2 separate regions of the Homo sapiens genome follow, and region 2 is linked to region 1. The links come from fine-mapping of genetic effects on gene expression. A gene starts in region 1. The other region holds a variant in brackets. All regions are shown on one strand. Distances are from middle to middle.

Evidence for each region. PIP is the estimated chance that this variant, and not a neighbour inherited with it, causes the effect.
Region 2: its variant is fine-mapped to the expression of PARP10 in whole blood (TOPMed, PIP 0.95).

The regions. Positions count from the first base shown.
Region 1 is chr8:143,984,236-143,989,589 of GRCh38, reverse strand. It overlaps PARP10 (poly(ADP-ribose) polymerase family member 10), which reads left to right and starts at 3,130. Exons shown (of 11, transcript NM_032789.5): 1 at 3,130-3,232; 2 at 3,357-3,535; 3 at 3,615-3,869; 4 at 3,942-4,178; 5 at 4,262-5,046; 6 at 5,159-5,354. The coding sequence starts at 3,231. RefSeq lists enhancers at 2,454-3,357, 3,028-3,467.
Region 2 is chr8:143,927,775-143,933,128 of GRCh38, reverse strand. It overlaps PLEC (plectin), which reads left to right. Exons shown (of 32, transcript NM_201384.3): 14 at 18-336; 15 at 417-494; 16 at 568-729; 17 at 895-999; 18 at 1,097-1,192; 19 at 1,470-1,595; 20 at 2,593-2,745; 21 at 2,831-2,985; 22 at 3,067-3,193; 23 at 3,300-3,483; 24 at 3,558-3,715; 25 at 3,848-4,026; 26 at 5,137-5,275. Among named protein-coding and RNA genes, the nearest start is that of PLEC, 9.1 kb to the left of the region's middle. RefSeq lists enhancers at 1-915, 4,140-4,389, 4,780-4,909 and a silencer at 4,524-4,653. The variant G/A (reference allele first, on the strand shown) is at 3,112.

The DNA.
Region 1 (5,354 bases):
ATAGTAGGTGTATATTTACGGGCTACATGGGATGTTTTGATACAGGCATGCCATGGATAATAATCACATCAAGGTAAATGGGGTATCCATCAGCTCAGGCATTTTGTCCTTCGTGTTACAAACAATCCAGTTATACTCTTGGAGTTGTTTTAAAATGTACAATTATTCTTGACCACAGTCACCCTTTGTACTAACAAATACGATGTCTTGTTTTCACACTAGAGACCCTGAACGCTCGCTTGTCTGCCTAACGTCCTCACAAGCTGCGAGGGGCTGAGGCTTGGGGATGCAGCAGGACTGGAGGCCAGGCCACCTCCCTGCTTAGCTCCCAAGTCCTCTTGGGGGAGCAGTGACTGACACAGGCAGGGTACATCCTGCTGCCAGCCTTCCCACCCGGGGCCCAGACCCCACCTGCCCTCCCGCCCTTGGAGGGCCGGCCTCTCCCAGGCCGCTCTGAGTCCTGCACCTATGGTGCGCTGGCGCAGTGTTTAGCAGCCGGACCTAGTGAGGGGAAGCCTGGGGTGCGTGTTTTGCACATGCGCGTGGTGTGAATACTCCACCGGGGCTGGTTTCAAGTTACCCCCAGCTGGACAACCAGTCCACAGAAATTCCCGAAACTGTACCAGTCTGCTTGTGGTGTGAGTGGTGCCTGTGGCAGGCCCTCTGCAGCCAGGGTCGGCGTAATGGATAACCTGTGATGAGTTCCATTAGAGAAAACGTGGAAAAAGCAGGGATGGATTTACCCTTGTAGAAGGTAACTTCTACCTTTGTAGAAGCAGAAGCTCACAAAATTTGAGAGACCTTTAAGAAAAATAAAATGCTTGCTGGGCGCGGTGGCTTACGCCTGTAATCCCAGCACTTTGGGAGGCCGAGGCGGGTGGATCACAAGGTCAGGAGATGGAGACCATCCTGGCTAACACGGTGAAACCCCGTCTCTACTAAAAATACAAAAAAAAATTAGCTGGGCGTGGTGGTGTGCACCTGTAATCCCAGCTATTGGGGGGGCTGAGGCAGGAGAATGGCTTGAACCTGGGAGGCAGAGGTTACAGTGAGCTGAGATCGTGCCACCGCACTCCAGCCTGCGTAACAGAGTGTGACTCTGTCTCAAAAAATAAATAAATAAGTAAATAAAAATAAAATAGCTGGGTATGGTGGCTGGCACCAGTAATCCCAGCACTTTGGGAGGCTGAGGCAGGTGGATCATCTGAGGTCAGGAGTTTGAGACCAGTCTGCCCAATAGGGTGAAACCCTGTCTCTGCTAAAAATACAAAAATTAGCTGGGCATGGTGGTGCGTGCCTGTAATCCCAGCTACTTGGGAGGCTTAGGCAGGAGAATCCCTTGAACCCAGTGGGTGGACGTTGCAGTGAGCCGAGATCACGGCACTTCACTCCAGCCTGGGTGAAAGGGCGAAACTCCGTCTCAGAAAAAAAAAAAAAAAAGGCAGAGTAAGGGAGATCATGCCAGAGGGGTGGCCATGGGGGTTTGTGGGGAAGGTAGGGCCAAGCAGAGGGAAGGGCCAGTCCCAGGCTACTGAGGCAGGAGTGGCCTGTAGCTCTGCAGGAAGAGCTGAGAGCCTGGAGCCCTCTGAGCATCAGGGTGTGCAGGGGGCATGGGGCCAGAGAAGGGACTGAGGTCTGGTCAGGTGCAGCTGGGCAGGGGGCAGGTCCTCAAAAGGACTTTGGGTTTTTGTTTTTTTTTTAGACAGAGTCTCACTCTATCACCTTGGTTGGAGTGCAGTGGCACGATCTCAGCTCACTGCAACCTCCACCTCCCAGGTTCAAGCTATTCTCCTGACTCAGCCTCCTGAGTAGCTGAGATTATAGGCACCTGCCACCATGCCCGGCTAATTTTTATATTTTTAGTAGAGACAGGGTTTTACCATGTTGGCCAGGCTGATCTCAAACTCCTGACCTCGTGATCCACCTGCCTCAGTCTCCCAAAGTGCTGGGATTACAGGCATGAGCCACTGCGCCCGGCCCCCAGGACTTTGGTTTCTACTGTTGCTGATGCTGGGAGCTGTAGCAGCTGCTGGTGTCATTTTACAAGGCTCACCCTGACACCTCTGTTGAGGACCCACCATGGGAGTGGCAGACAGAGACTAGTTAAGAGGTTAGCCTAGCTACCTAGCGAGAGATGCTGGAGGCTGGGACCAGGGTCGGGGCAGCAGAGGTGTGGCATGTGCAGGGCTAGGAGTGCAGGCTGGCCAGGGTCCTCAGCTCCCTGGAGGGAGGAACAGCAGGGGTGGGGCTGGGTTTTGGTGGGCTGAGGGGTGAGTGGGAAGTAGGAGATGGAGAGTGGTAGTGGCCACAGCTCTTTGAAAGGCTGGAAGCAAACGGAGCTTGGGTGATGTGGGAGATCTGTGGCGAGTGGGAGTGTGGACTCTGAAGGCACCGCCCAGGTTTGAGGCCTGGTGCTGCTATGGGCCTGTCTGCACCTCCGTTTCCCTTTCTGTGGTGAGGATTAGCGGCAGCAAGGAATGCAGTGGAGCCATTACCTTGTCACCTTCTGAGGTTACTTGTGACGATGCCAATGATGGTGTGAGATGGGGAGGTGCAGGCAGGACAGAAAGCTGCAGGAATGGGCAGGCAAGACCTGAGGCGGGAGGAAGGCTGTGCTGCAATGCACATTCTTGGAGACCAAGGGTGGGGAACCGCCCATGCTCAGCACCTGGCAGGTGTGAGGGACCAGGAGCAGGGTTGAGAAGGTTGCTGGGGGCGTTGAAGGCCAGCCTTGGCCGGGGGCGGGCCTGGAGACCCAGCACTTTGTGTGCAGAGGGTGTCATGGACACAGAGGCTTGGAGATCCTGAGTGAGGGGCAGTGACTCAGGCCCCTTGGTGGGTTTAGTGGGGCGGGTGATTGGCCATTTTCAGGCCATGGAGGCCAGGGGAGTGGAGGGCCACCAGGGGACACTCCTGTCTACCCTGCCAACCAGGGGCTGGAGTGGGCCAGGTAGGGCCGGTGGGCTGGGCTGGGTTGGCTGGAGGGTCCTGAGGGGTCCAGCCTGGCCAATACCTCCTGGTCAGCTGGGGGTTGAGGCTGCAGCAGGAGAGGAAGCATCTGAGCCCCAGTACCCAGGCCTCAGCGCCCAGGGCCCAGCTGCTCCCTCCCTCCTTCCGTCTTTCAGTTTCACTTTTGTTTTCCTGCTCCCAGCAGGGTTAGGCTTGCTGAGGGGCAGGCACAGGAGTCCTGGCTGAGCTCATGGCCTGAGGCTGCCTAGCGGCCACGGGGAATGTAAGTGCTGTATGTGGGGCCACCCATAATGGGGGAGCATTGAGGACACACCTTGGAGGGGCCTGGGGAGGGGCAGGAGGGGTGGAATGGGCTGTTTCCCTACCCACCTGATGCCCCGTCCCAGGGTTGCAATGGCGGAGGCAGAGGCAGGGGTGGCAGTGGAGGTCCGTGGACTGCCCCCTGCCGTGCCCGACGAGCTGCTCACTCTCTACTTTGAAAACCGCCGACGCTCTGGAGGGGGACCTGTGTTGAGCTGGCAGAGACTGGGCTGTGGGGGCGTCCTCACCTTCAGAGAGCCTGCAGGTGAGAGGGCTGGCTGAAGGGACAGCCTGGGTGCCCTGATATTCTAATGCCTGACATCCTGCCCCGCCCCTGCCCACAGACGCCGAGAGGGTCTTGGCCCAGGCAGATCACGAACTACATGGTGCCCAGCTGAGCCTGCGGCCAGCTCCACCACGAGCCCCTGCACGCCTGCTGCTCCAAGGACTGCCCCCTGGCACCACGCCCCAGCGCTTGGAGCAGCATGTCCAGGCCTTGCTGCGGGCCTCGGGGCTCCCAGTACAGCCTTGCTGTGCCTTGGCCAGCCCCCGGCCAGACCGGGCTCTGGTCCAGTTGCCCAAGCCCCTTTCTGAGGCAGGTGAGAGGCAGGGTTGGGGTTGAGGTGCTGGCTAGGGGGGATTCCCTGAGCTGACCTGCACATACCCCACAGATGTCCGTGTCCTGGAGGAGCAGGCCCAGAATCTGGGCCTGGAGGGGACCTTGGTGTCCCTGGCCCGGGTTCCCCAGGCCCGAGCGGTGCGTGTGGTGGGGGATGGTGCCTCTGTGGACCTGCTGTTGCTGGAGTTGTACCTGGAGAATGAGCGCCGCAGTGGTGGGGGGCCCCTGGAGGACCTGCAACGCCTACCCGGGCCCCTGGGCACTGTTGCCTCCTTCCAGCAGTGGCAAGGTGAGTGGGGCTGGGCAGACCCAGCCGACCGTCCCTCTCCTGCAGAAATCTGACAGGCTTTCTGTCCTTTCCCTTCCTCCAAGTGGCAGAACGAGTGTTGCAGCAGGAGCACCGGTTGCAGGGCTCAGAGCTGAGCCTTGTCCCCCACTACGACATCCTGGAGCCCGAGGAGCTGGCTGAGAACACCAGTGGAGGGGACCACCCGTCCACCCAGGGGCCTAGGGCTACCAAGCATGCTCTCCTGAGGACCGGAGGGTTGGTGACGGCTCTGCAGGGTGCAGGGACTGTGACAATGGGCTCTGGCGAGGAACCAGGGCAGTCAGGGGCCTCTCTGAGGACAGGTCCCATGGTGCAGGGTAGAGGGATTATGACAACAGGCTCTGGCCAGGAACCAGGGCAGTCAGGGACCTCTCTGAGGACAGGTCCCATGGGGTCTCTGGGACAGGCAGAGCAAGTCAGCTCGATGCCCATGGGGTCTCTGGAACATGAGGGGCTGGTAAGCCTGAGGCCTGTGGGGTTGCAGGAACAGGAGGGGCCCATGAGCCTGGGGCCTGTGGGGTCTGCAGGCCCAGTGGAGACCTCTAAGGGGTTGCTGGGGCAGGAGGGCCTGGTGGAAATTGCCATGGACTCACCAGAGCAAGAGGGGCTGGTGGGTCCCATGGAGATCACCATGGGGTCTCTGGAGAAGGCAGGGCCTGTGAGCCCAGGATGTGTGAAGCTGGCAGGGCAGGAGGGCCTGGTGGAGATGGTGCTATTGATGGAGCCAGGGGCGATGCGCTTCCTGCAGCTCTACCATGAGGACCTTCTTGCGGGCCTGGGAGACGTCGCTCTCTTGCCACTTGAAGGACCGGATATGACTGGCTTTCGGGTGAGTGACCCCTCAGGACTCCTCACCTTCAGCCCCCTCCTCCTACTGGGGACTCAAAGTACCTTTCCTGTGCTCTAAACCTGCAAACTCCATCTCTGCAATGGCCCTGCAGCTCTGTGGAGCCCAGGCTTCCTGCCAGGCGGCTGAGGAGTTTCTGCGGAGCCTGCTGGGCAGCATTAGCTGCCATGTGTTGTGCCTGGAGCACCCGGGCAGCGCCAGGTTTCTCCTGGGCCCAGAAGGGCAGCACCTTCTCCAGGGGCTGGAGGCTCAGTTCCAGTGTGTCTTTGGGACAGAGCGCCTGGCCACAG
Region 2 (5,354 bases), 56 kb after region 1:
GTCCTCTGCTGCCCCAGGGTGTACCGTCTGCACGAGCGCCTGGTAGCCATCCGCACCGAGTACAACCTACGGCTGAAGGCAGGCGTGGCGGCCCCTGCAACCCAGGTGGCCCAGGTGACTCTGCAGAGTGTGCAGAGGCGCCCCGAGCTGGAGGACTCCACTCTGCGCTACCTGCAGGACCTGCTGGCCTGGGTGGAGGAGAACCAGCACCGTGTGGATGGCGCTGAGTGGGGTGTGGACCTGCCCAGCGTGGAGGCGCAGCTGGGCAGCCACCGAGGCCTGCACCAGTCCATCGAAGAATTCCGGGCCAAGATCGAGCGGGCACGGAGTGACGAGGTGGGTGGCGCTGAGCGATGGGCAGTGCGGGGGTGGGCCGGGCCCAGCCACTGCAGACCTCACCGTCTCATCTGTTGCAGGGCCAGCTCTCCCCCGCCACCCGGGGTGCCTACCGTGACTGCCTGGGTCGGCTGGACCTGCAGTACGCCAAGCTGCTGGTGAGTGGGGGCAGGGCCAGCCGGGGGAGGTGGGTAGCCCGCGGCCTGCTGACACGCACCCTCCTGCCCACAGAACTCCTCCAAGGCCCGCCTCAGGTCCCTGGAGAGCTTGCACAGCTTTGTGGCAGCCGCCACTAAGGAGCTAATGTGGCTGAATGAGAAGGAGGAGGAGGAGGTGGGCTTCGACTGGAGCGACCGCAACACCAACATGACCGCCAAGAAGGAGAGCTACTCGGTGAGCGGTGGCCCAGCTGCCCTGAACCCCACAGCCCCCTCCCCAGCTGTGCCCTGGCCGTCCCCTATGGTCAGAGACCAGTGGGGGCCCTGGGTCGAGTTTGCTGGGAGCGTGGCAGAGCCGGGTGTGGCCGGCCGTCCCTGAGACCCTTTGCTCTGGTGCCAGGCGCTGATGCGGGAGCTGGAGCTGAAGGAGAAGAAGATCAAGGAGCTCCAAAATGCTGGGGACCGGCTGCTGCGGGAGGACCACCCGGCCCGGCCCACGGTGGAGGTGGGGCTCCCTGGGTAGGGGCGGGGCTGCGGGGGGGGCCGTGCCGGGTCCCCAGGCGGGGCGGGGCGGGGCCTGACCGGGACCTGCTGTCCCGCAGTCCTTCCAGGCGGCCCTGCAGACGCAGTGGAGCTGGATGCTACAGCTGTGCTGCTGTATCGAGGCACACCTGAAGGAGAACGCTGCCTACTTTCAGGTGAGAACCGGAGCCCCCTCCGCACTGTGGCTCAGCGGCAGCCTTGCAGGAGCCCCTGGACCCCCTCGGCAGCTCCAATCAGGAGCCCTCCTGTCTGCAGACGTTGCCAGCTGCTGCCTGCAGCCTGACCGGGGCCTTGGACAGGGGTGCTCCCCAGGCCTCCTGGGGGCTTTGCCACTCCTTCCTCAGTGCCCCCGTCTTGGGCCTGCCCTGGGACAACTGTGGGCTGGGGCTCTGGTCCCAGGTAGCCTGGCGTGACCCCCTCCCGCTGCCCCAGTTCTTCTCAGATGTGCGGGAGGCCGAGGGGCAGTTGCAGAAGCTGCAGGAGGCACTGCGTAGGAAATACAGTTGTGATCGCTCCGCCACCGTCACCCGGCTGGAGGACCTGCTGCAGGATGCCCAGGTGAGGGAGGGGGTGTGCAGGGGCGTGTCAGGAGGGGCTGGCCTGGAGTCTGGGCTGCACGGGTACTCTGGAGACTAGGGGGCAACTGGAGGGGCCAGCAGGAGTTGGGAGGCACCATGGGAGGTGTAGAGGTCAGCCGAAGCGGGAATGAGGCAGGATGTTCTGGGCTGCATGGGTACTCTGGAGACTAGGGGGCAACTGGAGGGGCCAGCAGGAGTTGGGAGGCACCATGGGAGGTGTAGAGGTCAGCCAAGGGGGGAATGAGGCAGGATGTGGGGAGCCGAGAGGCAGCCGGTCCAAGCCGGGCCGCCCCCATCTCCATAGCCACAGAGTGAGTGGAAGCCTGAAGTCAGCAGCTGCCGCCAGCCCTTGTGCTGTAGAAGGGGCACCGCCAGCCCTTGTGCTATAGAAGGAGCACTGCCAGCCCTTGTACTATAGAAGGGGCACCAGCTGTTTGGCCTGAGATCTGGAGCGGGCAGAGTGGAACTGGGCTTTGTGCTCTGGGAGCAGGGGTGGGATCACCCAGGAGGGCGGGTGCACAGTGGGGAGTGACAGGGAAGAGGGACTGGAGACTGAAATGGCCTCTGAGGTCGGCAGGGCTGGGCCGGGGGGAGAGCCGGCAGCTCCCAGGTGTGTGCCGTCCTGCGGCCTGGCCCCCGCAGAGGGGTGGGATGGGAGGAGGCAGTACCTTCTGCAGCCCGCAGGGGAGGGGCAAGGGGCGAGGGCATTGTAGGGACCAGAGCGTAGCTGGGAGGACATGGTGGGTGAGCTGGGGTGAGAGGAGGGTGCCCTGTCTGGGTTGGGAAGGAGCGAGGGTGCATGGGTCTGCTTGGGGCCAACCCCCGGGGCCTGTCCCAGCTATACCTCCTGCTTCCAAGTGCTGCCACCCCGGGAGCATCAGGAGGGCCCCACAGGCCTGGTCCCGGGGTCTGGGGGTGCCTGGGGCAGGCCTGTGGGTCTCCATGGCCCTCGTCTGGATGCTGCCCCTCCCCCACAGGACGAGAAGGAACAGCTGAACGAGTACAAGGGCCACCTCTCAGGCCTGGCCAAGCGGGCCAAGGCCGTCGTGCAGCTGAAGCCCCGCCACCCAGCCCACCCCATGCGGGGCCGCCTGCCCCTGCTGGCCGTGTGCGACTATAAGCAGGTGGAGGTGAGCGCAGGCCGGGGGTCCACTGGGGGGCGTGGCCAGGCAGGGCAGGGTGTGGCCATGTCCTCACCGACTCTGCCCGTCCCAGGTGACTGTGCACAAGGGTGACGAGTGCCAGCTGGTGGGCCCTGCACAGCCGTCCCACTGGAAGGTGCTCAGCAGCTCCGGCAGCGAGGCCGCCGTGCCCTCCGTGTGCTTCCTGGTGCCCCCGCCCAACCAGGAGGCCCAGGAGGCCGTCACCAGGTGGGTGGCGGGGGCTCAGCAGGTGGGGGCTGGAAGGCGGGTGGGGCGCTGGTGACGCTGACTGTAGCCCTGACCTGCCAGGCTGGAGGCCCAGCACCAGGCCCTGGTCACGCTGTGGCACCAGTT[G/A]CACGTGGACATGAAGAGCCTTCTGGCCTGGCAGAGCCTTCGCCGCGACGTGCAGCTCATCCGCTCCTGGTCCCTGGCCACGGTACGCCTGCCCCCGAGCCGGGGGCTCTCTGGGTGGGAGGAGGGGAGAGGCGTTGTGCAGGGCACGGCCGCCTCGCCCGGCACTCAGCCCCACGTGCTTCCCCCAGTTCCGCACCCTGAAGCCAGAGGAGCAGCGCCAAGCCCTGCACAGCCTGGAGCTGCACTACCAGGCCTTCCTGCGGGACAGCCAGGACGCGGGCGGCTTCGGACCCGAGGACCGGCTGATGGCTGAGCGCGAGTACGGCTCCTGCAGCCACCACTACCAGCAGCTGCTGCAGAGCCTGGAACAGGGTAGGGCACGGCAGGGCTGGGGCGGTTGGGCTGGTGCGAGGTGGGCGGTGGAGTGACCCACATGTGTTCCCCAGGTGCACAGGAAGAGTCTCGCTGCCAGCGCTGCATCTCCGAGCTCAAAGACATCCGGCTGCAGCTGGAGGCCTGTGAGACGCGCACCGTGCACCGCCTGCGGCTGCCGCTGGACAAAGAGCCGGCACGGGAGTGTGCCCAGCGCATCGCCGAGCAGCAGGCAGGGGCCGTCCCCCCCCATCCAGTCCCATCCCTCTCCCCATCCCTCCTCCCACCCTCCCTCCTTTGGCCTTCAAGGGGCGCTGTGTGCTGCGCTCGGTGATGAGTGCGTTCCCACTCCCTGTCTTTGCAGAAGGCACAGGCAGAGGTGGAGGGGCTGGGCAAGGGGGTCGCCCGGCTCTCTGCCGAGGCCGAGAAGGTCTTGGCCCTACCAGAGCCATCGCCTGCGGCCCCCACGCTGCGCTCGGAGCTGGAGCTGACGCTGGGCAAGCTGGAGCAGGTCCGCAGCCTGTCTGCCATCTACCTGGAGAAGTGAGTGCACCTGGCCACAGGCGAGGGGCTGGGGTCGGCTGGGGGGTGCTGGGGTGAGGGCTGTGACCTTGCAGGAGGGTGCAGGAGGGAACGAGTTGGGGGCTGTTCAGAGATCTGGCCAGGAGGCGGGAGGCCCAGCTGGGGTGGTGGCCGCAGAGGTGGTGAGAAGAGTTCAGGGCTGGATACGCTTCGACAGTGGCGGCCGGGGGACTTCCTGGTGATGAGATTCGGGTGTGGGGAAGAGACAGTGGAGCTGGGCAGCGGCTGCTGAGTGAGGTGGGGAAGCTGTGGATCCACTTTCAGTGGCACAGTAAGGAATCCTGCACCCTGCCTCTCGTCTGTCCTGTTCCTGGCCTGGACTTAAGGGCCTCTGGCATTTATTTCCAATGTGTTATGTCATAGTCTCTTCCTGTGTTGCAAACCACAGGTCCACCCGCTGTCTACTCCTCACAGAACCAGCACAGTGATAGGGCCGCCGCCTCTTCCTGTGTTGCAAACCACAGGTCCACCCGCTGTCTACTCCTCACAGAACCAGCACAGTGATAGGGCCGCCACCTCTTCCTGTGTTGCAAACCACAGGTCCACCCGCTGTCTACTCCTCACAGAACCAGCACAGTGATAGGGCCGCCGCCTCTTCCTGTGTTGCAAACCACAGGTCCACCCGCTGTCTACTCCTCACAGAACCAGCACAGTGATAGGGCCGCCGCTGGCTACCACAGGGTGCCATTTCCACCCCGGTGTCCCCTTCGCCCAGTCTTGGGCTGCAAGGGCTGAGAACTACGCTTCCAGGCCCTGTGGGCACCAGGATGCCGCTGTCATCCAGCCAGTGGGCTCGTCCTGTCTCGGGGCCTTGGGGTCTGCCGTTCCTGGCTGGCGCACCCCCTCTCCAGGCTGGGTCCTGAGTGTCCTTGTGTTACAGAGGCTCCCAACCTCCTTCTCCCCAAGGCTGTTCTTCTCCTGAAGCAAGCCTCTGACCACAGGGTCAGCTGACCCCCAGGGTTGGGTCTGGGCTTGGCAGGCAGCACCCTGGGTCGCTGTGGCTTGGGTTCCATTCCCTTGGGCTATTGCTCGAGCCCCATGTCATGGCCCTGAGCCCCGCTTTCCCGCCAGGCTCAAGACCATCAGCCTGGTGATCCGCGGCACGCAGGGGGCCGAGGAGGTGCTCAGGGCCCACGAGGAGCAGCTCAAGGAGGCCCAGGCCGTGCCGGCCACCCTCCCGGAGCTCGAGGCCACCAAGGCCTCTCTGAAGGTATCGTTTCGAGGCTTGGGCTTCATGGCGGGGTGGGGGTACAGCGGGCCCAGCTGAAGCCGCACATGTCCCTCCTGTC